Homo sapiens: one gene and its partners. The protein of the gene in region 2 purifies or fractionates together with the protein of the main gene of each other region. This does not show direct contact. Each region holds a gene or a part of one and is shown on either strand. Other genes may lie near its edges. The genes, in order: NOL10, RBM19, ZCRB1 and NOL12.

Region 1 (7,022 bases), on a different chromosome or scaffold from region 2:
TCATCTTTAGGGCAATGTGCCAGAGAGGAAAAGCAAGGGCTTGGTTACATGTCAACTGTGCGCTCAGGCAGTGCTACTCACTTCATCAGTTTCTGCTTTGTGGCAGAATCTTTGAAGCTTCTAAATTCTTCTCCTGCTTTGATCTCATAAAACTGGGGCTTTAGGACTGTCTGCTGGTCCTCCTTGAGTCGTTCCTGCCGCTTCACTTTTTCCTCCTGCTGGAGGAGTCTGCGTTGCTTCCTGACCTCTTCAACCCAGGCTTTTTCATCATCTGAACTCTCCGAACTTTCTGCATCACTTGGTTTTCCTTCCGGCTCTTCCTCCTCTTCCTGAGAATAAAAATAGTAAGCAGCAACTCCTTTCCCCCAGTCAAACACAGACCCCTTGGTTTCTCTGAAGCAGCACTGGCCCATTAATGAGTGCCTAACAGCTGCTCTACTGCATGCATCAGGAGAAATGCCTTTAAATAAATAAGATAATACTCCTAAGCCCAATGTCAAACACTTAATATGGAATTAATTACATCTCAAGTATAATCAAAGACTCTTCTAACTTACAAAGAAAACATTACATTAAAGAAACAGTAGCAAATTCTAACTGATAAGGAGTACATTACTTTTTCACGAAGTTCTTGTTGCTCTAAGAGTCTTAGTTTCTTCTTCCTTTTTTCACTAATTTTTGAAACAAGTGGATTCAGAAGCCTAAATTCTTCACTCTCTTCATCTACTTGGAAGTCAGGGTTCTCAAACATAACTTTAAATCGATCATCGGTGAGAATATTAGGAAGACTCTACAAGGAGGAAAAAGTACGTAAAAATTTAAGTTAATATCTGACTAAAATTTGACCAGAAACATGGTTTTAAAACACTGATTCTATTATAAGTTAATAAGCGGCATGAGGCATACATTATTAACTCATTATGAAATTTCTTCCAGGACTTTCAACGTGCCCCTAGGTTTTAGCTGCCACCACCAAAACAACCTCTATTAATCTACTTTGCAGATGCTCTACACCACTTGGCCATTACACACAATGAGCCAAGAATGACCCTTTTGGCTAACTTTATGCTTAACAGATTAGAAAGAATTTCTTCAATTAACATTTTAATGCAAAAAAACACCTTTCAAGAAGATACTAGGTTTTTAAAAAGTGGCTTTTATTATTTTTTAGAGATACGGTCTCACTCCAGGCTGGAGTGCAGTGGCACAATCACAGCTCACTGCAGCCCCAACCTCCTGGGCTCAAGTGATCCTCCCACCTCAGTCAGGCTCCCAAGTAGCTGGGACCACAGGTGCACCACCGCACCCGGCTAATTTTTTATTTTTTGTAGAGATGGGTCTCACTATGTTGCCCAGGATGGTCTTGAATTCTTGGGCTCAAGCAATTTCTCGTGCCTTGGCCTCCCATAGTACTGGGATTACAGGCATGAGCCACTGAAAACAGGGCTTTTAAATAAAGCTTAGTTACTACACTGACTTAAAATAAGCAATTCTTTCAACTTCAGATTCCAAAACTGGGAGAGGAGGTATACAAAGTCAGTAACTCACATGGTGGGATGCAGGAAGCTGGTGATGTCAGTTTACCGATTCCAGCTGAGTTACTGGGAAACAGAAGGGACGTTTCCATCCCCTACAGGGTTGTTTCATCAATATTCCCCCTCAGGTCAACTAATTGTTGTCAAAGGATATTGTGTATCCTTCAGATACAAAAACTTTGGCTACTGAGACCCATTTAGATAGCTCAGGACTGATACTAAATTCCTTTTTATTTGTACCATTTTCAATGGAAAGTTTTCTAAACTGTACTGTAAACTTACCTGTTCACTTAAGTAGATGACAGAGAATCTTACACATTTAGGACTGTCTTATTGTTCCTTCTCTGCTACAGGCTTGGAAGCCAGATGAAACGGCTTACTCAGAATTGTTTGTCAATCAGAGTAAACAGCCCTGAACACTGCTGGAAAAAGCTGACCTGTTTGTGATGGACTCTGACTCTGCTGAACAGACTACTTTACTATTTCTCCACTGTTGAGAGTAAACAAGATTGCAGGCAGTTGAGTTCTGAATATTATTTGTGTGACAGACCTATACAAAAGTTTAGTAAATCATAAGATATTAAGGAACTTGGCCTGTTTATTATTTGTATGTACCTAAAAACAGATAAACCCTTACCTAAAATTCTAAGATATTAAATGCAGCAAGTTTCCCTGATTAAACATCATTTCCAAGAAAGACTTACAACGAAGGGAAAAAGAAAGGTAAGATCGAGTTCCTGATCCTAAACTAGTAAGGAAGAAAAAACACTGCAAACACGTGCTACTAGGCCTCTTCTGAGGGCTGCTCGGTAGTGCTGAAAGTGCCACAGGAGAGGACAGAAAAAGGAATCCCAACAAAAGACACCCCAGGAGGGGCCCTGGGGGGTGCAGCATCAGGGAGGGGGCTTGAAAGATGAGTAGGTTTCAACAAGTAGAAATCTGAAGAAACAGCATTTCCAGCCGATGGGAGTGGTGAATAGTCTGGCGACATAAGAATGATGCAATTTCAAAACAATTTTTTGATTGGGTCATACTGTAAAGGATTTTAAATACCATGACTGTTATTTTGAAGATATAAGGGGAAACCACTAGCGAAGAGGAGGAGGGGGAGGAAGAAGAGGAAGAGAAAAAGGAAGAGAAACGAAGGAGGGAGACAGGGAAGGAGGGAGGAAGGAGAAGATGGATGATCAACAGAAGTGTGCTTCAAGACTCCCAGATGACAGAACTGGCCAGGTGGTGGTTCATGCCTGCAATCTCAGCACTTTGGGAGGCTGAGGTGGGAGGACTGCTTGAGGCCAGAAGTTCAAGACCAGCCTGGGCAACATGGTGAGACGCTGTCTATACAAAATATAAAAAATTAGTCAGGCGTGGTGGTGCATGCCTGTAGTCCCAGCTACTTGGAAGGCTGAGGTAGGAGGATCGCTTGAGCCTGGGAAGTCAGGGCTGCAGTGAGTTGAGATCACACCATGTACTCCAGCCTGCGTAACAGAGAGACCTTGTCACAAACAAACAAACAAACAAACAAACAAACCAACCCAAAATTGTGCTTCAAAAGTCTGCAGCAGCCTGATGTCTGACGGACTGCTGAGTAAGAAGTTAGCATCATGAGAAGACTAAGAAGCCATTTTAAGAAACTGGCAAGAGAGACAGGGCCTGAATTAGGGCAATGGGAACAGACAGTTTTTAAGAAAGAATAATTACGAGATACAGTTCTAAATTAGAATTGACAGATCCAGCTATGGAGATGGGAGGGTTAAGAATTAAAAACAGGGTTAGAAACTTCTCTCAAACATGTAGCTTAAGCAACCAGAAAGCTGGCGACACTGAGTTAGAATCCATCACTGGAGAGCATTAGGAAAAAACGCAGGGGTGGAGTAAAGGGGAAGAAATCACGCTCCATTTAGGGCTGCCTATGCCTGTGGCACAGGGAGAAGAGCACCAGGATTCAGACGGACACCACTAGGTGTCTGGGAACGATGCGCCATGTCTCAGGAGAAGGGAGGGGGCTATGATGTAAATTTTGGAGTTATCTGTAGATATCGGATAGATGATAGTGTGAAAGATAATTTCAAATGAATAACTATGTGCCTATTACACATTTTCAGGTTAAAAAAACCCAAGGGCAAATATTTACTTTTCATCTTACTATATTTATTAAAGTAATAATCATATTTAATAAATAGAGAAAATGTTACAAAGACTACATATGTTGCTGGTATTAAGATTTTTTTCTTAATTTAAAACAAATCAATTGCATTGCCTAAAGACAAGTATGCTTTGGATGAACAACTATAAAATAAAACCTCTTCTGACCCAGCTTGTAAAAATATTTCCCTCAGGGTTTTTTCCTAGTCTGTTTGTTTTCACAGCTGTCTTAAGGAAAAAAGTAGGATAAGGTATAGCTATTAATGTTCTATAGGAGCTTACAAGTGTCTGGCTAGTGATCCGTCCTATAAATACCCGTCTACACATGCTCAACTTTACCATTAAAATATAGAAAACATTAAAGTACTATTCATACCACAGTCCTACCTGGAAGAATGGTATCTGTCTACCTGAGTGGGACGCCTATTATTATTTTGTTCCAACATAGTAACATATATGAAGAATGATTGCCATTTGAAACAAATTAGTTTTTTTTTTTTTCTTTTTTTTCTTTTGAGATGGGGTCTTGCTCTGTCACGCAGGCTGGAGTGCAGTGGTGTGATCTCGGCTCACTGCAACCTCTGCCTCCCGGGTTCAAGCGATTCTCCTGCCTCAGCCTCCTGGAGTAGCTGGGATTACAGGCACGCGCCACCACGGCCGGCTAATTTTTGTGTTTTTAGTAGAGACGGGGTTTCACCAGTTGGTCAGGCTGGTCTCAAACTTCTGACCTGGTGATTCGCCTGCCTCGGCCTTCCAAAGTGCTGGGATTACAGGCGTGAGCCACTGCACCCCGGCCAATCAAATTAGTTCTTTCAATGCTATGATACCTATGAAGTTAGGCTGGTACAGACTTCTGAGTAAAGATGGTGGCTTGAACACTAGTATCTTCTAATCTCTCCTAAAACTTCACTAGAACAACAGAAAAGGAGCTTTATAAAAAGGGCATAAACCCTTAAGAAAAAAAGGAAAGGAAATAGGGGTAATAAAAATTTGGAAGCCAGAAAGAAAGCCTATTTAAAAATCACACCCCAGCTCTGGAAAGCCTGGCCCCAGCCCTTTCCCACGGAGAAGTTGCTTGGCTGAGGCTGGCACTGCAAGAGCAAGAGAGGTGTGCTGGCCACAAGGAGGGGAGGGCAAGGCTGGCACATGGGGGTGAGGTGCCCTCTGGACCCCTCCAACCTCTTGTGACCTACAGTGGTCAGTTCTAGGAATGCTGGTAGCCAGGCCTTTACCCCCCCAAGCAGGAGGACCTGACCAGCCAAGAGAAAGACCTAAGAGACAATGACATGTGCAGTGTCCTTCCCCAAACAGTGTGGCCAAGTCACTGCACACTGACTGAGGGACCCTGTCCCCACCTAGAGTTTTCATTCAGTTTTTTAACTCTCTTATTCCTCACTGCCAAAAAATAACTATGGATCATGGCAGGAAAAACTAATTGAAATTTTCTTTCAAGAAAATTCCCCAGCACTGAAGACCGAACTTCTAGACTGAGATGGGCTTGCAGCACAGTACAGTCGCTTCGTGTCAGGTTTCCCAGGACGCTTCCTCTTCCTGGGCTTACACTGTTATTTTAGAGAAACAACTCCCCTAGCAACTTCCCGAGGAAAAGCAGCATTTAAGGGGAATTGGTTGTTGTTGAGAACTTGCATGTCTGAAAATATCTACCATACCCTCACATTGACTGACTGCTTGCCTAGGTTGGAAACTATATTCCTTCAGGAAACTGAAGGTTCTTGTAATTCTCTGTCCAACATGGGCTGAGGTGAAGTGAATCCCCAGGATAATGGTAAAGGGAGGTCCCGGGATTAGAAGGTGACCAGGCTAGAATGGAATGGGGCAGAAAATTCTAGAAGCAACTTCTTCAGGAAGGTAAATAAGCATAAGTCTAACCTATCTAAACACCTCAAAATAAGACTTAGAGAACTGACATAGAATTGGGTGTTGATTAGTGATAACTACATAGAAAACGAGCAAGAGAGACAATTATTAACTTCAAAGTACACAAAGATTGAACAAGAAATGCAGTCACAGATTACTACTGACTCGGCTGGAAATAGCACTTACGTAGGCCAGGCATGGTGGCTCGTGCCTGTAATCCCAACACTTTGGGAGGCTGAGGTGGGAGGATCTCTTGAGCTCAGGAGTTGGAGACCAGCCCGGACAACACAGTGAGACCTCAGCTCTACTAAAATATATACATACATATATATTAGCTGGGTGTGGTGTGCACCTGTAATCCCAGCTACTTGAGAGGCTGAGGTGAGAGGATCACTTAAGCCCGAGAGACTGAGGCTGCAGTAAGCTATGATTCTGCCACTGTACTCCAGCCTGGGTAACAGGCTCTATCTCAAAAAACAAAAGTACAACAATGTAATGCTGAATACCAACTTAATCAAAATCACAATATAGCTTCCTTGGAAAGGAAAGTTATCAAAAGATAATGCCTAACACTAAAAAGTTAAGAGGTAGGACTACAGGCAAGAGGGAGGGAGGGGGAGGGGGCAGAGAGAGAGAGAGAGAGAGAGAGAGAGAGAGAGATTTATACCAAAATAATCAGCAAAAAAGGCAAAAGTGGTTGTCTGAGAAGAGGTGAAAATGGAGGAAGGCAGAGGGAGGAAAAGGGGCAGACAATGGGATGGCCTACATTCCTAACAAACCTTGGAGAAATGTTTAGGTTTTTTTTGTTTTTGTTTTTGACAGAGTCTCACTCTGTTACTGGGCTGGAGTGCAGTGGCACAACCATGGCTAACTGCGGCCTTGCAGGGAGATCCTCCCACCTCAGCCTCCTGAGTAGCTGGGACCACAGGCATGCACCACTACACCCAGCTAATGTTTTGTAGAGATGCGGTTTCACCATGTTGCCCAGGCTGGTCTTGAACTCCTGGGCTCAAGTGATCCTCCCTGCCTTGGCCTCCCAAAATGATGGGATTACAGAAATGTTTTTTTGTTTTGTTTTGTTTTTGTTTGTTTGTTTGTTTTTTGAGATGGAGTCTTGCTCTGTTGCCCAGGCTAGAGTGCAATGGCGTGATCTTGGCTCACTGCAACCTCTGCCTCCCAGGTTCAAGCAATTCTCCTGCCTCAGCCTCCCAAGTAGCTGGGATTACAGGTACGCACCACCACACCCAACTAGTTTTTCTATTTTTAGTAGAAATGGGGTTTCACTGTGTTGGCCAGAGTGGTCTCAAACTCCTGGCCTCAAGTGATCTGCCTGCCTTGGCCTCCCGAAGTGCTGGGATTACAGGTGTGAGCCCATAATGTTTGTGTTAGGCACTGTGCCCAGACTGAAATGTTTAGTTTTTAAAACTATGCATGTATAACTGTAATTTAAAAAAAACAAAAATT
Region 2 (7,022 bases):
TAGGTTCAAGGGTGGTAACTGAAGTAAAAATCAAGGCAGCTGTGATTTGGGGGAGACAGTTAAGAACAAGCCAGGATGACATGAAGAGAATTTTGTTTTGATGGGAACAGGCACAGGTTTTGAAGGAGACCCTGATCCAAACTGAGTGGAGAGAGCTTAACTCATAAACGAGCAGGAGTCGGGCTTTCACAAGGTTTACACCAATCATCATTAACCCCAACGATGTGGGATGCTTCTGGGTCCTCAGATCGCAAAGGGACTGAAGGATTTTGTTTCCTGATTGAAACAGGCCTCCAGACAGGCACTTCCTGAATGCCTTGCGCTGGCTGAGCCAGTCCTGAAGATACACAGTGAAACAAGGAAATGAGAAATGTGGACAAGGCAGGGGAGGTTAGGTACAGCAAAGTCTATTCCACTAAAATCTTAGACTGGGCGTGGTGGCTTATGCCTGTAATCCCAGCACTTTGGGAGGCTGAGGCAGGCAGATCACTTGAGGCCAGGAATTCCAGACCAGCCTGGCCAATATGGTGAAACCCCGTCTCTACCAAAAATACAAAAAAATTAGCCAGGCGTGGTGGTGGGCGCCTGTAGTCCCAGCTACTCGGGAGGCTGAGGCAGGAGAATTGCTTCAACCCAGGAGGCAGAGGTTGCAGTGAGCCAAGATCGCGCACTCCAGCCTGGGCAACAGAGCAAGGCTCTGTCTCAAAAAAACAAAACAAAACAAAACAAAAAAAACAACTCTTAAATCTGACAGTGTTCCTCCCCATTTTTTTTTAACTATGAAATGTCCTTTAAAAAAAAATGAGAACAAAGGAGAGAGTAGCTGAGGACTTATTATTATTTTTTTTAACATCCTTATTTTAATAAGTTAAACAACTGGTTGCTGTATTGTGGGTGTGTATAGGTGAGTGGTTATTACTGACAAGGAAAATCGTAACATCTGGATAGAATGACCATGGTCCTGTTGGTCTTGGCTTCTAAGATGTGGTCATGGTCCTTAGACTATGAGGTCCTCGATGCGGGGGATACACTGCCCGCTGTGGGCATCTAGGAATGCGTGGGGGTGTTCCAGGTTGTCACAAGGACTGGGGGCACTCGTGACACTCAGAGGCACAGGCCAGGGATGTGAAATGTCTTGTGATTTGCAAAGCAGTCCTGACAAGAAAGTACTGTCCAGTCCCAAAGCCCAATGATACCCCTTTTCCCAGCTAGGAAGCATTAGCCAGGGGGTGGGGGTTGCCCTATCTGGCCCCCAGGGGCCACGGCTTCCCCTTCCTTTCCTGTCTTTGCAGTCACTGGACATCAGAGGGCACTGCCACTCCAAGGACATGAGAATAAGTATCTCCCATACCAGCCACCCTCCTCCATGAGCCATTCTGGTCCATCTCTGAAACAGGAAGGTTGTTTATACTTGCTCTGCTTTGAATCCTTGTTAATAGATAGTAATTTTTTTCCCCTAAAAGCTTTAATTGACAAACTAAAAGCATATTGCATCCATAATTTTGACACTGTTTTTTACAGGACATGCCCATAAAATCTGAGAGTCTGAGCCCTGCTGGTCTCTAGCATGAACAAAGAGCTTTAAACCAGAGGCTTGATAAGAAACTTCACGCTGCCCCCAACCCTCCTCCTTTCCCTCACCAGGATCCCAAGCCATCCTGGTCTCAGACTCAGCTCTTACCTGTTTCTGGCTCTGCTGGGTCCTTTTCCATGGGTTCTGAAGGTGTGTCTTGGAGCTTTTTCTTCTGTGGGGCTGTGCTGGAGAAGACGCCAACTGGAGCCCACTCCAGATAGAGGGGGACATGATGGAACTGCAGAGACAAGAGTGATGGCCCTGTGGGTCTTCATTACAACACACTGCTGGGGAGGGACTCAGTCCCATGCAGATCACAGCCCAAGGGTCACAGAGGATGGGCAACTCACCCAAGAATGGAGCCGGAAGGAGCCCAGCCCAGAGCCCTGACTGCTGTCTACTCCCTGAGGACAACATTCGGCCCCCATGCTGCATCTCAGGGTGCAGGAGAGAGGCTTTAGTCTCTGTTGCCACCAGACATATGGCAGCTCCCAGGCCCCCTTTGTGTTTTTTCCAATCAGAGTATGAAACTCTAAAGTTTCATACTTTAGATGGGAGTGGGACGAGGAGCGACCACATCACTGGTAAAGTGCAGCTCTCCAGGAGGAAGTGTAAAATACCCGTTAAGAGAACACACTTTCTCTCTATGTGCATATATCCACGGGCAACACCTGTATACGTGTGCATATGTGTGCATGCAGATGTTATTTTTTTAAAAGGATAGCTGGGCATGGTGGCACACACCTGTAGTCCTAGCTACTCAGGAAGCTGAGGTGGGAGGATCCCTTGAGCTCAGGAGTTTGAGGCTGCAGTGAGCTAGGATTCTGCCACTGCACTCCAGGGAAATCCTGCCTCTTAAAAAAAAAAAAAAAAAAAAAAAGAGGGGCCCTGGGCAGGCGGGTGATAAACAAGACACTGATGACACCTGCCTCATTAGGCGGTTACTGGGGAGCTGCAGGACAGGGGTGGGAGTGAGACTTGTCAACAAATGCCCTTTTTGAATCTTTTCAAATTTCCTACTCCATGAAAGCCTTGCAAATCAGTTATTTTCAGAGAAATACACATGCTTCAGAGTGAAACAGATTGGTGTGCAGACAGCAGGCTGCATCACTACTTAGCTGTGTGATCGTGGGTCAGGGCACCTCTCTGGGCATCAGTTTCCATATGTGCAAAATGAAGACAGCAGTCTTCTTGTCGGTGAAACAGACACTGCCCAAAACAGGAGGCCTCACCTAGTCAGTGTTCTCCAACTGTGGCTCACACAGAGAGAGCTTTTGGTGACTGGCATGTCCTCCCAAAGCAGAAGGAAGAAAGGATGGTGTCACATTCCAAAGGATGCTCACATCTCAGTCATGGGGCCCCACCTAGATAATTTTTCTTATGGGTCAGGCGCAGACTGACTTCCTGAGAGCTTAGTGGCCACAGAGTCCCAAGCTAAAGACTATTACGGGGTTAAAGTGGCAGAGAATGAGAAATCATTTCCTCACCAGCAAAATGGGGACATGAATATCTATCTCTAAGAATTGCTGGGGGGCATATGAATACCTATCTCTAAGAATTGCTGGGGGGGACATGAATATCTATCTCTAAGAATTGCTGAGGGAGACCAAGGTCTGCGAAGTGCTAAAGTGTCTTATAAACAGAAAATACTTGTAGTGGCACCGCAAGGGTATGTCTATATCTTGAACCCCTAGAAACCTGTGAACGCGCCCTTATTTGGAAAAAGGATCTTTGCAAATTTCATTAAGTGAAAGATTTTGAGATGAGATCATCTTGCATTATCCCGGCAGAGCCTAAATCCAATGACAAGTGTCCTTATAAGAGAAACAGGGAGGAAGACTGAGAGAAGAGGAAAAGCCAAGTGAGGATGAAGGGAGAAACTGGAGTGATGCAGCCATGGGCCAGGGATGCCTGGAGCCACCAGAAGCTGGAAGAGACACAGATCAGACTCCCTAGAGCCTTCAGAGGAAGCACAACCCTGCTGACACCTTGATTTCAGACTGTGGCCTTCGGAACCGTGGGATGATCTATTTCTGTTGTTTCAAGCCAACTAGCTTGTAATAATTTGTTATGACAGCCACAGCCAGCAAACTAATACACAACTGTTGGCTTTTTTCTAAACCAAGAACCAGGAGACAGCCCCACCTACAGAACTGACTTTCATTCATCTCATTGTAGCTACAGGATTACAAAAGCATCAAGAATGCTCATTCTTGGGCAAAATAGGGAGACCTTTGTCTCTACAAAAAATCAAAAAATTAGCCAGGCGTGGTGGTGCATGCCTGTAGTCTCAGCTACATGGGAGGCTGAGGTGGGAGGATTGCTTGAGCCCCAGAGTTCAAGGCTGCAGCGAACCAAGATGGCGCCACTGCACTGTAGCCTGGGTGGCAGAGCGAGACCCTGTCTTTCAAAATAAATAAATACTTTTTCAAAAAAATAATGAACACATTTAATTAAAATTAAAATGCTAATCCAAATTAACATGGGTAAAGAAAGCCAAAGAAAAGCTAGAGTCAGGCAAGGAACCAAGGCATGCTTTCTGGAGGATGGTTCAGAACTCCCTTCTCCCGGCCCGGCGCAGTGGCTCACGCCTGTAATCCCAGCACTTTGGGAGGCTGAGGCGGGCGGATCACGAGGTCAGGAGATCGAGACCATCCTGGTGAACACGGTGAAACCCCGTCTCTACCAAAAATATAAAAAAATTAGCCAGGCGGGGTGGCGGGTGCCTGTAGTCCCAGCTACTTGGGAGGCTGAGGCAGGAGAATGGCGTGAACCCGGGAGGCGGAGCTTGCAGTGAGCAGAGATCGCGCCACTGCACTCCAGCCTGGGTGACAGAGCAAGACTCTGTCTCAAAAAAAAAAAAGAACTTCCGTCTCCCATTCTTCCCATCCAGACAGGTTTTCAGGCGGCAGGGATGATATTCAGCCATGATCGTGACGGGCGGTTTAGGGTGAGCTCCCATGTGCCACATCTGTGAATCCATAGCCCACTGCACCCTCTCCCTTGAAGCAGCCCTCACTGGTCCTTCTCCAGATCAATTCTGGGTCTCCAGCAGCCCTACCTTGGAATAGGCCAGATGCCTGAAGGCCTTGCGGGCCTCCAGGGGCTCCAGGAACTCCACGATGGCAGTGATTCCGCCCTCTGGCAGCAGCACGCGGCCCAGGCTGCCAAAATGGCCGAAGGTCTCCTGCAGCTGGGCCGCCAGGGTGCCTGCCGGGAGGTTCTTGACCAGAATCACAGTCTTGCTTCGCTCTGCTGCAGCCTGCAAAGAGGAAATGCACACACATGGGACCACAGGAGGGAGGAGGGTCCCCAGCTGACACCAGCAGGGATCGTGGGGCTCTCCAGACAAGGCTCTCCATTTGGAACCTCAGCAACCAGGCACTTAGGAGGAAGACCCAGGAGGAACGACCCTCTCTGGCATGATGCTCCCTGCAAGGCTGCAAGGCAGCTCTGCAGAGGGGGTAAGGCCTGGGACTCTGAAGCTGGAGCTTCTGGATCAAATCCCAGCCCCTCCTCCACTCCTGAGCAGGGCCGCACTTTCCAAGGCTTCCAGTGGCTGGGGTCTGCATCTCAGTACCAAGGCTTTTTTTCCTGAACTACAGACCGCCCACCTGCTACCACGTGCAGCCAGCAGGACGTGCTGCAGAGCTAACGCCCCCTGGGAGCAGCCCACAGCTCTCAGGAGTTGCTGCACTCCTTGTCCTTGGGTGGGATGAGACTGAGGTATGAGTGCTGCAGGCTTTCCCCTAGGCAGAGCTCCAGGCAGCCACAGGGCAGCGTACTGCAGCAGCACACTCTGCACCCTGGGCTCCTTCCCTTCCCTGCATCCCTTTCTCACCAGAGTTTTCTGCACTGCCCCCAAAACTGTTTGCCCTTGAATCCTTGTCTCAGAATCTGCTTCTGGGAGAACCAAAACTAAAAGACTAAGCTATTCAGCCTTGAGAAATGTACTTAACTGTGCCTCAGCTCCCGCAGCGACAGCAAGGACAGAGCATTTATTTCACAGGATCGCTCCAGGAAAAGTTTTCATTAAATGGGTTAGTAAAAGTACATGTAATATGAGCACTCTGAAAACGTTAGCAATAATTTTATTAAAAAATAATGTTGGAGGAGGATAAAAGAGCCAATAAAATATAATGGAAAAATCTAGGCATATGGCCTATCTGGGAATAAGTCTTAGCTCAGCCGCTAATGTAACCTGAGACCTTGGGTCAATTACCTTGTTTCTGTGGGCCTCAATTTTTCTCATCTGCAAAATGGGCTAACAGTCACACCCATCTTATAGAGGCCACACAAGGTTACTATGAGGATTGAGTGAGGTGAGGGGAGTGAAAACCATCTGCAGGTGGGAAAGGCTGGGCACCTGTGGGCCTTTTAGGTGCAACTCAGGCCGCAGTGTTACAGTTAGAGAGACAGACTCTGGGGCCAGAAGGCCTGTGTTCAAACTCAGCTCCACCATGACTAGCTGTGAAGTGACTTCACCCCTCTGTGACTGTGGTTCCTTCTGTAGGGTGGAAGCACAGTAGAGCTGCTTTCACAGAGTGGCCATGTGAATGAAATGAGCTAATTAAACATGTAAACTTAGAAGAGTGCTTTGGTAAGTCTTAATAAATGTTAGCTATTAGTATATTTATTTTATCCATCTATCTACCCATCCATCCATGCATCATCTGTATTCATCCACCATCCATCCATCCATCCATCCATCCAACCATCAAGCCATCCATTCATCCACCATCCATATTCATCCTCCATCCATCCATCCATCCATCCATCCACCCATCCCCCATACATCTTCATTCATCCATCCTCCTCATCCATCTTGAGGTAAAAATGTGAGGCCTGGGAAGGCTGTTGAAAGGGCTGTTTTGGGAGTCAGAAGCCCTGAGTTTTAGTCCAGGCTCCTCTCACATATAGACTGTTTGACCTTGTAAGTCACCTCCCCACTCTGAGCGTTGGTATCCCAGATTGTAAAATGAAGGGGTCTCATGATGTCTTAGGGGCCCTCTAAGCTGCAGTCATCCATAAATCTAAGACCTGCTACTTGCTGGAGAACAGGCACATGGAGGTGCTGGACTCTTCCCTGCTAGGTTCAAGAAGGGTCAAAGTCCCCGAACAGATAACAGATGCTCTGGGAAGCCACTGGGTAGGGGAGTGAGATGTTGGGGGTGCCGATCTGTGTGGGGGAACTGTGGGGTTGTAGGCAGACCTCTTGTACATGGCTCTGGACAGACAGAATCAGGGTCAGATAGGCCACTTGTCTCAGCCCATGTAACATTTCTTCTTTTCTTTAGAGACAATTTAGAAATCAGTAATAGTCCTTAGAAGGCCAGATCCTTAAATCCATCTGCATCTCCCCTGGAAAGGCCATTCTCGACTCTCCAGTGGCTGCTGGCTGGCTGGCGCCACCGAGAACACCCACCTGGCTGAAGGAATCCAGGCTGAC
Region 3 (7,683 bases), about 72 Mb from region 2:
ATACTAAGAGTTCCTATTATATAAAAAGTCTTTTAGAATGTGTTAGTATATGCAACCAATAATAACGAATTTTTTCGTTCTATGATTAAGCTGTATAATGCTGGAATGTAAAATAACTGGATAGCAGTGTTAGCAACACTGGGTTCTGAAGGCCAGTACAGTCTTCTATATAATACTTACTAATGGCTTCTTGTTTCATGCAGAGTGAAAGCCAGAGTCCTTACCATGATGTAAATAGGTCGTATAAGGCACCTCGAGTGGGCTTACCTAAGATTACCCCTCTTTTTCTGAAATGTTTGTCCTCTAGAATTTGCACAGGTGCCTCTTACTCGTTTCAGGTCTTTATTCAAAAGTCACCTTCTCAATAATGGCATTTCTGACCGCCCTATGTAAAATTTCACTTCCATTCCCAACTTAACGTTCAATAGCCCACCTTTCCTGCGTTATTTTTTCTCCTTAGCACCTAACATCTTAGCATCTCCTTAGTATCTAACACATAATTTGACTTAAATGTTCAATAAATATAGCTTCTATTTTTTTTTCTTTTTTTTTTTTGAGACAGGGTCTCATTCTGTCACCCAGGCTGGAGTGCAGTGGTGTGACCTTGGCTCACTGTCGCCTCGACCTCCTAGGCTCAAGCAATCTTCCAACCTCAGTCTCCCAGGTAGCTTGTAGAGGCATGGTGGCACACACCTGTATTCCCAGCTACTTGGGAGGATGAGGTGGGAGGATCACCTGAGGGGGCGGGGAGGCTGCAGTGAGCCATGATAGTGCCACTGCACTACAGCCTCGTGCCTCAGTGACAGAATTAGACTGTCTCAAAAAAAGAAAAAAAAAAAAAGGAAAAAAGAATTTGCCAGGGAGAACTATTTGCTTAAGGTTATCTGTATCTCAAATAGCAGTCACTCGATAAGATTTACTTACCCGGTACAAGTCATTGTTTGTCAGGGAAAAAGGCAAGTTGGATACATACACTGTGCTCTTACTTGGAGCCAATCCACCACTCATTTCTAAAAGTGAAAACAAACTTATCAGCAATCAGTCTAAACCAGGATTCTTTTTTTGTTGTTTGAGACGGAGTTTCCCTCTTGTTGCCCAGGCTGGGGTGCAATGGCGTGATCTCGGCTCACTGCAACCTCTGCTTCCCAGGTTCAAGCAATTATCCTGCCTCAGCCTCCCGAGTAGCTGGGATTATAGGCATCCACTACCATGCCTGGCTAATTTTGTATTTTTAGTAGAGACAGTGTTTCACCATGTTGGTCAGGCTGGTCTTGAACTCCTGACCTCAAATGATCCACCTGCCTCAGCCTCCCAAAGTGCTGGGATTACAGGCATGAATCACCACACCTGGCCTAAACCAAGTATTATTAATTCCAAATAAAACCAATACATCAGACCAGTCTGGGTATTATTTGGAAAAAAACAAAAAACAAAAACCAATAAAGTATTAACAATCACCGATTTAATTATGCCAGATGTGTACACCTTCCTTACATTTTAGGAAGTTAGGAACAATGACTCCAGCAGGCTGAATTAAGGAATTCCTTTTTCCCAGTCACCACTTAAAAAAAATTCTTTTTTGGTTCTTCTTCTTTCAAGTATTCTTTATACCAACACTTTCAGTGCCAGATTGTATGGGTAGGGAGACGGGTTTTGAACAGATGAAGGAAAAACCCTGAGGCTACTCCTAACTTCCACTCAGACCATGAGCAAAAAAAATGCTCTATTGAATATGTACTGTATATGTACATTACCTGCACCTTGCTCACCCAGGTCAGAAAGAGCATGGGGACTCAGACAGAACCTTAGCCACTGATTTTTGCTAATACACAGTCATGCTATGCTTAATGAAGGAGGTATGTTCTGAGTGTTACGTGATTTCACAGTGCAGACATCACAGGGTGTACTGAGACAAACCTAGATGGTCTAGCCTATTGCTCCTAGGCTACAACCTGTACAGCATGTTAATGTAGTGAATAATGTAGACAGTTGAAACACAATGGTAAATATTTACATAGCTAAACACAGAAAACGTACACTAAAAATATGGTACAATGTATTACACTCTTAGGAGACCACTGTGGTATATGTGGTTTGTTGTTAATCAAAAAGTTGTTATGCTGTGCATGCCTGTACTATGGCTGGGTACCTTTTTTGCTTGTCTTAATATTTTTTTTCTCTGGAGTGGTGTGTTAAGAGGAAAATTTTCTTTTCCCCTTTTAGTATGATGTTAAGGAGTAAATTTAAGCTTTATGTATCGACAATATAAACTTCTTTCGAAACGCTAATTTTGCTTATTGCCAAATTATGAAATGATACATTATATAAATAGGCTTGGTGCCTCGAAGAGACAGACCTGTAGGTATGTGTGTATATGTATATAAAGTTTACAAATGTAATCAGTAATTTTCACATCTTATCTTACAAAGTCAGCAAATTACCGTGAAAATATCAGGCTCAACCAAATTCAAATTTCTGATTTAAAAAGAGCGTGCGGTGTGTATTTGAGATGGGAAGATCAACCATCACAAATGGAAAAATACTGACTCTATGGCATGCCAATTCGTGAAGGAATGAGAAAACTGCCTCATGTTTGGTGTTATGGGGGAATTATTTAGAAAACTTCAGGAACTCAACATAGATACGTCGCTTTTTAAGTTTCTCATTTGAAACTATGCGTTACACGTTCTGCTGAGAGCCGCGAAGGCAGGCAGAGGTTAAGGTCCTGGAATAAAAAGGGTGGCGGGAGAGAGGGGCAGAGCGTTTTGGCAGCCGAGTCTGGGGAGGGGGCCCCGCAGGAGAGAAGGCCGCAGCTGAGGAGGCGTTTACCTTCAGGTGGGTTGGGCCTGGGAGACCAGAAGAGTGCGAGCCCTCGGCTCAGCTGGGGCTCAACCCCGACTCTTCGTAGCCGCTCGCAGCGGCCTTGGCATCACGAGTCCTGGGAGGGGTCAGGCGCGGAGAGCAGATAATAGCAGCCACGGTGCTTCTTCCCGACTGTTTGAGATCCGGGCCCCGAAGGCGGGCCCAGAGGCGAGCGCTTCGCTAACGTCATTGCGCGCGCCGGAAGTACCTACCTGGGATAACGGCGGCGAGCGGACGGCTGCATTTACGGGGTCTCCCGGAGGGCCAGAGTCGGTGAGCGCTTTTTACCTTTCCCAGAGATGGATGCAGAGCGTGTGCGGGCTGCTAAACGGGGGGGAGTGGGCGGGAGTTTTCTGTGTCGGGTCCTGGATTCTCCTGCCTTTGAATTGTGTGACAATTCTGCCCATGCGGTTGAGGGTGGAGAGACGCAGTGGAGTTTGGAATAAAGGGAAGTATTGAGTCTAAGATAGGGGTTCGCCTCTCTGTAGCGCCTTAATATGCAAGAAGACGACTGAGCTAGGTAACTTCAGTGACCCGAGAGGAGTCAGGAAGTCGGTAATTTTACTGAAGGTGTTCACGGTACCCAGCTATTAGGCACTTTGGGAACTACAAAATAAACAGACCTTTTATGTTTTGTTTTGTTTTGTTTTCTGGTGAAGATCTCAGTCTAGTTGGGGAGACGAGGTCAACTTGGGGAGAGTTGGATTCACAGAATGACTCATCTTTAGTATGGGTATGGACAAGTGTTGATCTTCTTGGCACCTTTTCTCTTCCTGTAAATCTATAATGGCTACGCACTGCTTTTTCTCTAAGAGGCCATAACATGCCCACCATTCCTACAGAAAAATCAGAACGTAATGCAAGGTAATTTATACTTCTGCCTACCAGCACATACAGACCAGGCCTCTAACCACTCCCTGGGAGCCTGCGTTCCAGCAGCCTGGAACCCACAGCCTCTCCTGGAGCCTGCACAATCAATCCAGAGTGAAGCCGATGTCTTCTATAGAGACGGAAGTACAATCCATCCAGGGCGCAGCTGAATTTTGAGAGGCCTGAATGCCTCCGTGGCCGACAGGAGACCGCTGGCACTAATTCTCTAGGCATACTTGTGGCCAGCCAAACTTACCATGCTTTACATCTCTGTTATCCTTGGTTACCGCCCAAGATGTAAGCTTCTGTGGTCTTCTGTGCTATAGTCTCATTTCCATGCTGCTTTGTGCTTTCTTTCGACTTAGGCTATCACTGCTTCTTCGTTTCTTCCCCATTTAACCCCTCAACACCCCATCTGTGCTTTCTGAAACCTCTATTTCCTGCTTAAACTATTTTACATATTCAACTTCTTTAGTGAAATTCTCCTTCATCTCCTAACCTTAACTATTGATAACACGTAGATTTTCCTGCCAGCCATTTCAGTTGAGCCCTTTCTCTGACCCTGCATTTAAAGGTTGGGCATGGCTGTAGCCATGTTGAACGGATTTCAATTCCTCAGAATACTTTCTTCCCTCAGTATCTTCACAAAGGCTCTTTTCTCTCTCTGGGACATTTGAGCTCCCTGTTTCCTCCTATCTTTTTCTGGATAACTTCTATTAAAGATCTGAGTTTAGCTGTCACTTTACTTGAGGGGTATACCCTAACTTCCATAGAGTTAGGTATTTTTGCTATGTACTCTTAGCTGTCCTGCACTTCCCTCACGGCATTTATCACATGTATCTTAATTGCTTCTTTGCCATCCCTACTAAGCGAGACTGTCGGTGAGGGACTGTGTTTGTCTCGTTTATCTTTGTAACTCCAGTAGCTAATACAGTTCTTGGCACATAAGACAGTCAGTTATTTCTTGAATGATTGCAGGTGCTGAAGGTATGCTGCAGAGATCAGGCAGTTAACGTTAATGAATACTTCACCCTTAGAAGGGGTCACCTGCCACTCAGCTACAGCTGATTGTGGCTATGTGAGAATATGATCCCAGTTTTGCCAGAACATCTAATTTTTTCAAAAAAAGTTGGAAATACCATTTTTTAAAAAGCATCCTCTCCCAGTTTTTAAATGTTGTCAGTGGAATAGAATTTTATTAAAAAAAAAAAAGTGGGTCAAACACAAGTCTCATATGGCCTATCAGTCACTAGTTTGGAATCTGTTTTAAGTCTTGTAGGGTTTATATAATGGGCTTTGTGGAGAATAATAGGTTTTGAGTTGGGCCTTGATGGACCGTTGGATGTTGAATGAGAGAATGGAAAAAGATATCCCGTTTGGAAAATAAACAGCTCCGTGGTAGTATGTGTTAGTCTGTTTGTGGCACAGTAAGGAAACAGGCATAATTATATGCTTTTGGAGAGAATAGAAGGTTAGATATAATAGAAGGAGGCATATGGAAGATAGAAGTTTGGATTTATTATGGTTAATAAAAAACCTCTTGGATTCTTGATCCTGGAAACTTCACATTATGAATATGCGTTAACAGTTGATTATCCTTTTTTAGGGTAAAATGGAGGGTAAAACACTGGAAGGAGGCTGACCGGTTAAGGCCTTAACTTCCATCCATATATGAAATAAAATTCAGATTTATAAATATTATATGTAGGCAGACATCTGGCATTTTTGTTTACTTGTGTAATTTCAGTTAATTGATCAATTATAATGGACAATCAGGGATCTCCTACTAAGTTTAGTGCAGTACATTCGGGCTTATAAAAGAAGTATCCTTAAAGCGTTGGAAAGTCAAGTGACTTGTGAAACTAGTAGAGAATGCAGTACTTTTTATTTTTTTATTTTTTGAGACGGTGTCTTGCTCTGTTGCCCAGGCTGGAGTGCAGTGGCACGATCATGGCTCACTGCAACCTCCATCTCCCAGGTTCAAGGGATTCTCCTGCCTCAACTTCCTGAGTAGCTGGAATTACAGGCATGTCCCACCATGCCTGGTTAATTTTTGTATATTTTTTAAGTGGAGACGGGGTATTACTATGTTGGCCAGACTGATCTTGAACTCTCAACCTCAAATGATCCGCCAGGCTCAGCCTCCCAAAATGGTGGGATTACGGGCATGAGCCACCGCACCCAGCCCCAGCATCAGTTAATTTTTTTTTTTCAATGACCTTAACTAATTATGTTCTAAAATTTATGTTTAGTTGTCTGGAATTTCAATTTTTTTTTTTTTTTGTGTGTGTGTGTGACGGAGTCTCACTCTGTCACCCAGGCTGGAGTGCAGTGGCGCGATCTTGGCTCACTGCAAGCTCCCCCTCCCGGGTTCATGCCATTCTCCTGCCTCAGCCTTCCGAGTAGCTGGGACTACAGGCGCCCACCACCGCCCCCGGCTAATTTTGTTTTTGTATTTTTAGTAGAGATGGGGTTTCACCGTGTTAGCCAGTATGGTCTCGATCTCCTGACTTCGTGATCCGCCCCCCTCGGCCTCCCAAAGTGCTGGGATTACAAGCGTGAGCCACCGCGCCCGGCCTGGAATTTCAAATATTTTCTAATAGAAACATTAGAATATTAATTCACTCTGAATACTGAGCACAGTGTGCAAATTGTTCTAGGAGCTTAATATTCATCAGTGAACAAATAGACATTCCTGCTTTTTATTATTATTAGCATTAATAATCTAAGATACTATATAGTGTACTTTTAATACAGATTAAACCCTCACTACTAGAAATACTACTAGTAGAAATATTACTAGTGAGGGACTAATGTGTATTAAAAGTACATTATGTGGTATCTTAGATTATTAGTGCTAATTAAAGATAGCACGATTGGGGGATCTGTTATAAGTGACATTAAGAAGGTGACATTGAAGGGCAGGAAAGTTAATTCCACAGATACCTGGATGAAGGGTGGCCTGCCCCTCCACACCTGTGGGTGTTTCTCGTCAGGTGGGACGAGAGACTGAGAAAAGAAATAAGACACAGAGACAAAGTATAGAGAAAGAACAGTGGGCCCAGGAGACCAACACTTAGCATATGGAGGACCTGCACCGGCACCAGTCTGTGAGTTCCCTCAGTATTTATTGTTTACTATTTGCACTGTCTCAGCAAGGGGAATGCGGCAGGAGAACAGGGTGATAGTGGGGAGAAGGTCAGCAAGAAAACGTGAGCAAAGGAATCTGTGTCACAAATAAGTTCAAGGGAAGGTACTATGCCTGGATGTGCACATAGGCCAGATTTATGCTTCTCTCCACCCAAGCATCTCAGTGTAGTAAAGAATAACAGAGCAGCATTGCCACCAGCATATCTCGCCTCCAGCCACAGGGTGGTTTTCTCCTATCTCAGAATAGAACAAATGTACAATCGGGTTTTATACCGAGACATTCCGTTTCCAGGGGCATGCAGGAGGCAGAGGCCTTCCTCTTACCTCAACCGCAAGAGGCCTTCCTCTTTTACTGATCCTCCTCAGCACAGACCCTTCATGGGTGTCGGGCTGGGGGACGGTCAGGTCTTTCTCGTCCCACGAGGCCATATCTCAGGCTGTCTCATTGGGGAGAAACCTTGGACAATACCCGGCTTTCCTGGGTAGAGGTCCCTGCAGCTTTCCGCAGGGCATTGTGCCCCTGGTTAATCGAGAATGGAGAATGGTGATGACTTTTACCAAGCAAACTGCCTGTAAACATGTTGTTAACAAGGCACATCCTGCACAGCCCTAGATCCCTTAAACCTTGATACCATACAACACATGTTTCTGTGAGCACAGGGTTGGGGCTAAAGTTACAGATTAACAGCATCTCAAGGCAAAACAATTGTTCAGGGTACAGATCTTTTTTTGTTTGTTTGTTTTTGTTTTTGAGATGGAGTCTCGCTCTGTCACCCAGGCTGGAGTGCAGTGGTGCAATCT
Region 4 (7,580 bases), on a different chromosome or scaffold from region 2:
CACGTCCCCCAGGCTGCCCTGCCTTGTCCTCAGTTCACCCACATTGATTCTCCCCTACACTGGCTGACACTCACAGGACACTAGGACTGGGGCCACAACCGGGCAGAGGAAAGTCCTGGGGCAGGTAAGAGAGGCCACTGGGTGTGGAGGAAGGAAGCCCGGCTCAGCGTCAGACAGACCTGTGTTTAAACCCCAGCTCTGTGGCTGTGTGCCCTTGGACCAGTTATTCAACGTCTCTGAACCTCAGTTTCCTCATCTGGCAAACTTTGTTAAGACTGCACTAGTTGGCCAGGCACGCTGGCCCACGCCTGTAATCCCAGCACTTTGGGAGGCCGAGGTGGGTGGATGACCTAAGGTCAGGAGTTCGAGACCAGCCCGGGCAACATGGCGAAACCCCGTCTCTACTAAAAATACAAAAATTAGGCCGGGCATGGTGGCTCACGTCTGTAAATCCCAGCACTTTGGGAGGCCGAGGCGGGTGGATCACCTGAGGTCGGGAGTTCGAGACCAGCCTGACCAACATGGAGAAACCCCGTCTCTACTAAAAATATAAAAAATTAGCCGGGCATGGTGGTGCATGCCTGTAATCCCAGCTACTTGGTAGGCTGAGGCAGGAGAATGGCGTGAACCCGGGAGGCGGAGCTTGCAGTGAGCCGAGATCCCGCCACTGCACTCCAGCCTGGGCGACAGAGCGAGACTCCGTCTCAAAAAAAAAAAAAAAAAAAAAATTAGCCGGGCGCAGTGGCGCGTGCCTGTAATCCCAGCTACTCAAGAGGCTAAGGCAGGAGAATCGCCTGAGCCCGGAAGGCAGAGGTTGCAGTGAGCCGATATTGCGCCATTGCACTCCAGCCTGGGTGACAGAGCGAGACTCCATCTCAAAAAAAAAAAAAGACTGCACTAGTATTGGCTGGGTGTGGTGGGTCACACCCGTAATCCCAGCACTTTGGGAGGCTGAGGCAGGAGATTCATTTGAGGTCAGGAGTTTGAGACCAGCCTGGCCAACAAGTGAAACCCCGTCTTTACTAAAAATACAAAAATTAGCCGGGCATGGTGGTGCATGCCTGTAGTCCCAGCTACTGGGGAGGCTGAGGCAGGAAAATCACTTGATCCCGGGAAGAGGAGGTTGCAGTGAACCGAGATCATGCCACTGCATTCCAGCCTGGGCGACACAGCAAGACTCCGTCTCAAAAAAAAAAAAAAAAAAAAAAGATTAGCTGAGGTGATGTATAGAAATGCATGGTGCCTGGCACGCAATAGGGGCTCGGTGAGTGTTGGTTCCCTTCACCCCTTTTAAGGCTTGGTGTGTCCCAAGGGCCTAGGAAACTAGGTCCAGATAAGTTAAGTCAATCTCTGTCCTTAGGCCACCTGCGCCCCACCCTCAGCACCTGTTTTTGCCTGTGTGACCTCAGACAAGTGACTGCACCTCTCTGAGCCTCAGTTTCCTCCTCAGTAAAATGTGGATTGTACCTCAAAAGAGATCATCATAAGCCAGGCACAGTGGTGGGCACCTGTGGTTCCAGCTACTCCTGAAGCTGAATGGGGAGGATCGCTTGAGCCCAGGAGTTTGAGACCAGCTTGGGCAACATAGTGAGACCCTCATCTCTATAAATAAATAAATAAATAAATAATAAAATCAATAATCTAAAGAGAGTAAAGAGCTAAATAAATGTCAGCTGCTCTTGTTACTCTTTTTCCTCATTAAGTTTATCATCACTTCTTTTCTTATTGTTTTTGTTTTTTGTTTTGAGACAGAGTTTTGCTCTTTTGACCAGGCTAGAGTGAAGTGGCGGGATCTCGGCTCACTGCAACCTCTGTCTCCTGGGTTCAAGTGATTACTCGAGTAGCTCAGCCTCTCGAGTAGCTGGGATTACAGGCATGCACCACCACGCCCGGCTAATTGTCATATTTTTAATAGAGATGGGGTTTCATCATGTTGGTCAGGCTGGTCTGGAACTCCGAACCTCAATTGATCCACCCACCTTGGCCTCCCAAAATGCTAGGATTACAGGCATGAGCCACTGCGCCTGGCCTGTTTTTTTTTTTTTTCTTTTTTTTTTTCAGAGATGGGGTCTCACTCTGTCACCCAGGGTGGAATGCAGTGGCATGATCACAGCTGCAGTGCAGCCTCAAACTTCTGAGCTTGAGTGATCCTCCCACCTCAGCCTCCCAAGTCGCTGGACTATAGGAGTATGTCACCACGCCTGGCTAATTTTTAATTTTTTGTAGAGACAGGGTCTTACTATGTTGCTCTACTGTCTGTCGCCAGGCTGGGGTGCAGCAGCGCAATCTCGGCTCACTGCAACCCTCCCGGGTTCAAGTGATTCTTCTGCCTCAGCCTCCCAAGTAGCTGGGACTACAGGCGTGTGCCACCATGCCCAGCTAATTTTTGTATTTTTAGTAGACATGGGGTTTCACCATGTTGGCCAGGATGGTCTCGATCTCTTGACCTCGTGATCCTCCCGCCTCAGCCTTCCAAAGTGCTGGGATTACAGGTGTGAGTCACCGCGCCCGGCTTGAGCCTTCACTTTTCATCTCCAACCACTCTGGGTGGGAGTGGAGCCCTGGCAAACCAAGCAGGTCGAAGCCTGGGACTGGGAGGAGACAGACCAGCTGCAGAAGGTGACTCTCTGGGCACCTTCAGCCAGGGTGATGCCTCTACCCAGGAAGGTGCCAAGGGTGGCTTTAAGGCACTGCCACTAAGGGGCAGAAGCAGCTGGTCAGAGGTGCAGTCCAGCACCCTAAGGGAGCCCCCTGCATTGCTCTGGGCCACAGAACTGAAAGGCCAGGCCTGTAGTTTAAGGGTAACTTCCAGCTGGGCGCGGTGGCTCACGCCTGTAATCCCAGCACTTTGGGAGGCCGAGGTGGGTGGATCACCTGAGGTCAGGAGTTTGAGACCAGCCTGACCAACACGGAGAAACCCCATCTCTACTAAAAATACAAAATTAGCCGGGCATGGTGGCACATGCCTATAATCCCAGCTACTAGGGAGGCTAAGGAAGGAGAATCGCTTGAACCTGGGAGGCGGAGGTTGCAGTGAGCCGAGATCGTGCCATTGCACTCCAGCCTGGGCAACAAGAGTGAAACTCCGTCTCAAAAAAAAAAAGGTAACTTCCTCTCAGGATCCCACATAGATTTCCCAAGCAGAGGAGCTGTATGGAATGAATTCAGCATTCTGGAGTGCTGCACTTACTGCCTGCCTCCTTCCAAAACTCAGAGTCAGGGTACAAAGATCAGCTGGGCGTGCTGGCAGGTGCCAGTAATCCTAGCTACTCAGGAGGCTGAGGCAGGAGAATTGCTTGAACCTGGGAGGCGGAGACTGCAGTGAGCCGAGATCACAACACTGCACTCCAGCCTGGGTGACAAGAGCGAAACTCTGTCTCAGAAAAAAAAAAAAAAAAAGCGGATGAAGGATTCTGGCATACAATCCAAGTGACTAAAAATCCCCTTCAGGCGTTGTTTCACTGCAATCTTTCACAACCATGCCCTCATTCTCAGTCAAGGATGTTATTATACACTCATTCCACCTTTGGGCAAAGTGAGGCACAAAGAGGGAAGATGGCTTGTGCAGAAAACACATGTATGCGTGCCTTATGTTAGACAAACTTTACATAATTAACTTCCTCACAATCACAGCTGTCAAGGTTTAGTCCACGGACCAGCAGCATTAGCATCACCTGAGAACCTGCTAGAAACGGAAATCCACTCAGAAACCTCTATCGGATCAGAAACTCCGGGGTGGGGCCCAGCGATCCAGGTTTTTAGCCCTCTAGGGGATTCTGATGTATGCCAAAGTTCCAGAACCAGTGTCTACAACAACCCTACGAAGCTACTATACTTTCCCTTATTTTACAAATAGGGTGAGGCACCGCGAAGACCATTGGTCTGGGACCACACAGCTGTAGGTGTGATGCCAGTATACAAATCCAGGCAGTTTGGCTCCCTCTTGGAGACTACCAACGAGTTGACATCAGCATCTAAAGTAGGGGCCAGCACGGTGGCTCACGCCTGTAATCCCGGCACTTTGGGAGGCCGAGATGGGAGGACCACTTGCGGTCAGGAGTTCAAGCAGTCTGGTCAACATGGTGAAAACTTGTCTCTACTAAAAATGCAAAAATTAGGGAGTATGGTGGCGCACACCTGTAATCCCAGTTACTCAGGAGGCTGAGGCGGAGAATTGCTTGAACCTGGGAGGCAGGGATTGCAATGAACCGACATCCGCCACTGAACTCCAGCCTGGACGACAGAGCGAGACTCCATCTCAAAAGCAATAATAATAAATTAAAGGAAAAAAATATCCAAAGTAGGGTTAGTACAGGAAATTTGGGCCATTCACGAGTAACTCCATATTGAGTGTGTGCCAGGCACAGTCCTAGGCAGTGGGGTCCAGGGGACCTCGCTCTCATTGAAGCGAGGCTGGGGAGGGGCTGGAGCTGGGAGTCACGGAGAGATCAGGGACCAGCGCGTCATGCATGGGAAGAGGGAAGAAAAGGAGCTGGGAGGTCCCTTTAAAAGGCTGGGCCTGGTGGACGGAACTTCGGTGCGACGCTAAAGTGTGCGCCCGGGAGGATGAGTACGCTACACCCGGAAGTGTCTTCAGGGAGAGGAAGCCGGCGGCCTCACTGCTATGGGCCGCAACAAGAAGAAGAAGCGAGATGGTGACGACCGGCGGCCGAGGCTCGTTCTTAGCTTCGACGAGGAGAAGAGGCGGTGAGTGGCAAAGCCGGACCGGACTCCCCTCGAGCTGTTCTTCGCGGCCAAGGCCAGGTCTGGGGCCGAGCACGCTCCCGCCGGGGGCTCTTCCGGTCCCGCCCCCTGGCGTGGCTAGAGAACCCCTCTCGGCCTTCCAGCCCGCGTTCCCGCTTCTCCCTTCTCGGCCGCCACCTTCTCCCTTCTTGACCTCCCCACCTCGCCTAGTGTCTGTGCGCCGCCAGATAGCCGGAAGCTCGGGTCTCAGAGCAGTGGCTTCGACCACCCTAGCCCAGCCCAGTCCATCGGTCCGGCACACAGCAGGCGCCCAGCCGTGGTTGATAAATGATGAGCCAATGAAATGAGAGTGGCTTAAGTTCATTCATTCGCTCCCTAGACATTTATTGGGCTCCTTTGGTGTGCCAGGTCCCGTATCAGGAAGCAGAACCTCTGAGCCTCAGCGTCTGGCCAGATAAATAAATGGCACATGGTAGCGGGTCAGCGAAAAGCCCAGTGCTGGACCGTGGGACAAAATGGGAACAGAGCAGCTAGCACTGTGGAGATGAGAAGGGGCTGAGATTAGACCGAGGGAAGGAGGTAGGGAAATGCTGGGCATCATCAGGAAACTCCTAGCGTGCATCAACAGGCCCTACAGGCGAGTTTAGGGTCAGGTGTCCTGGGGACATGGGTGTTGGTCCAGTGCAGGGTTTCCGAAGGTCTGGATGGTGGTGGCCCTGAAAACCCTGTTGAGAGAGTAATGAGGTTTGTAGGTGTGGAAGGGGTTACCTCATGTACTGTGTGTGGCCCCCCCCCCCACCCGCCCCACAGCCTGGCCCTGTTGCCTGAACCTGAGATCCCTGGAGAGTATTGAGTGGAAAGAGGCAGTATCTCCCTTATTTTCCTAAATGTATCCTTTCTCTAACCTTGGGCAAGTAACCTAGACTCTGTGACTCAACGTTCCCATCTGTAAAATGGAGATTGATACCCACCGCACAGGTTATTGTGAGGGTTTTTTGTTTGTTTTTGAGATGGAGTCTGTGTCGTCCAGGCTGGAGTGCAGTGGCATGATCTCGGCTCACTGCAACCTCCGCCTCCCAGGTTCAAGCAATTCTCCCCGCTCAGCCTCCCAAGTAGCTGGGACTGCAGGCATGCGCCACCAAGCCCAGCTAATTTTTGTGTTTTTAGTAGACACGGAGTTTCACCATGTTTGCCAGGCTGGTCTTGAACTCCTGGCGTCATGTGATCTTCCCACCTCGACCTTCCAAAGTACTGGGATTACAGGCGTGAGCCACCATGCCTGGCCATTGTTGTGAAGGTTAAATGAGCTAATACTTACACTTTTTTGGAATGGTGCCTAGCACATAGTGAGCGCGGCATTAGCCATTTTTCTCCTAGAGCGAGCCCTTCTCTCCTTGTATAATGACTCTCCTGTCTCTGCCGGCTTCCTTCCTGTAGGGAGTACCTGACAGGCTTCCACAAGCGGAAGGTCGAGCGAAAGAAGGCAGCCATTGAGGAGATTAAGCAGCGGCTGAAAGAGGAGCAGAGGAAGCTTCGGGAGGAGGTACGCAGGGGGAAGGTGGGAGGGAGGTCTTTGATTCTTAGGGCACTTGCAGCCTTGGATTTCCCTAATAGAGGCAGCTGCTGGCATGGGGCGATGTGTGTGTGGGCAGGACTGGGGAATAGTTTATACAGGTGGAGACTCTGTGGGCCCGGGTCTGGGAGTGATGGAAGATGGAGTCTCCTCCTGATCTTGCAGTATGGATCATGGTCTCCCTCACCCTGGGGGTGATTAATACCCCAGCCTGAGGTTGGACTGAGAGGCCATACTCACTGTGTTCCCTGCCTGTGTGGTTTCAGCGCCACCAGGAATACTTGAAGATGCTGGCAGAGAGAGAAGAGGCTCTGGGTAAGTGGCATGCTTGGCCTGACCTGGAGAACAGCTGATGGGCCTGGTTTATACCCTTGGTGGGTGGAAGGGATAGAAGCTGACCTCCTTGGCCCTAGGGATCTTGGGGGGTACCCTGGGGCCAGGGGTGGTCCTAAGCACCTCTAAGTGCAAGTGGAACAGAGACCAGGAGAAGGAGTCCCAAACCCCATGGTTAACCAAGCCTGAGAAGAGAGCCCAGTTTTTAAGGATGGAAAGGACTAGGGGTGGAGGGGAGGGACAGCAGTAGCTGTCACAGAGGGTTTGTCTGACATGGGGACCAGCTAGAGCATGAAGGAAACGGGATCATTCACAACATTCATCCACAGACCAGGCTCTACAGCCAGTGACCTTGTGGATGCGCTCCACGTCCACAGAGTAGAGGGGGCACTGCACTCCAGGGCGGGAGGGAGGCTGGAGCCTGGTCACTCGTTCCCGTGACTGAGACCAGGTCTGTGTCCACCCCCACAGAGGAGGCAGATGAGCTGGACCGGTTGGTGACAGCAAAGACGGAGTCGGTGCAGTATGACCACCCCAACCACACAGTCACCGTGACCACCATCAGTGACCTGGACCTCTCGGGGGCCCGGCTGCTCGGGCTGACCCCACCTGAGGTGGGTCCCAGTCTCAGCCCTGGGAGGAAGGGGCGTGGGGGCAGACCAGCTTGTCAGGGTTGCTCAGTGCTGGCCCATGTCATGGGTATCCCACTGCCAGCCCTGGGAAGAAGGGGCGTGGGGGCAGACTGGCTTGTCGGGGTTGCTCAGTGCTGGCCCATGTTGTGGGTACCCCACTGCTGGGGCTCCTTCCCTTTGGACCCTTCATTCCCTGCTTCCGGGGTGCTGCAAAGACCAGCCCCACTGCTGAGCGGCTGAGGAGCTTGGGCAGGCTCCTTCACCTTGCCTGCTTCCCTTTCTCCATCAGTGAACTGGGGGTTGCTGATGGTGGCACCTGCCTTGTGGGATTGGTATGA

What was found.
Region 1: the proteins of RBM19 (region 2) and NOL10 purify together in Homo sapiens (affinity purification with mass spectrometry; 2 studies listed by BioGRID and IntAct, with this or other methods). This does not show direct contact.
Region 3: the proteins of RBM19 (region 2) and ZCRB1 purify together in Homo sapiens (affinity purification with mass spectrometry; 2 studies listed by BioGRID and IntAct, with this or other methods). This does not show direct contact.
Region 4: the proteins of RBM19 (region 2) and NOL12 purify together in Homo sapiens (affinity purification with mass spectrometry; 3 studies listed by BioGRID and IntAct, with this or other methods). This does not show direct contact.

The regions. Positions count from the first base shown.
Region 1 is NC_000002.12:10,588,962-10,595,983, forward strand, and holds part of NOL10 (nucleolar protein 10), read right to left. Parts: intron 791-7,022; coding exon 617-790; intron 330-616; coding exon 82-329; intron 1-81.
Region 2 is NC_000012.12:113,935,326-113,942,347, forward strand, and holds part of RBM19 (probable RNA-binding protein 19), read right to left. Parts: coding exon 6,999-7,022; intron 4,836-6,998; coding exon 4,635-4,835; intron 1,812-4,634; coding exon 1,682-1,811; intron 1-1,681. UniProt on the Homo sapiens protein: Plays a role in embryo pre-implantation development.
Region 3 is NC_000012.12:42,323,095-42,330,777, forward strand, and holds the start of ZCRB1 (zinc finger CCHC-type and RNA-binding motif-containing protein 1), read right to left. Parts: upstream 3,001-7,683; 5' UTR 2,830-3,000; intron 1,011-2,829; 5' UTR 1,009-1,010; coding exon 925-1,008; intron 766-924; exon of another isoform or gene 606-765; intron 1-605.
Region 4 is NC_000022.11:37,681,769-37,689,348, forward strand, and holds the start of NOL12 (nucleolar protein 12), read left to right. Parts: upstream 1-4,574; 5' UTR 4,575-4,624; coding exon 4,625-4,707; intron 4,708-6,141; coding exon 6,142-6,247; intron 6,248-6,543; coding exon 6,544-6,592; intron 6,593-7,081; coding exon 7,082-7,224; intron 7,225-7,580. UniProt on the Homo sapiens protein: Multifunctional RNA binding protein that plays a role in RNA metabolism and DNA maintenance. Participates in the resolution of DNA stress and the maintenance of genome integrity by localizing to sites of DNA insults.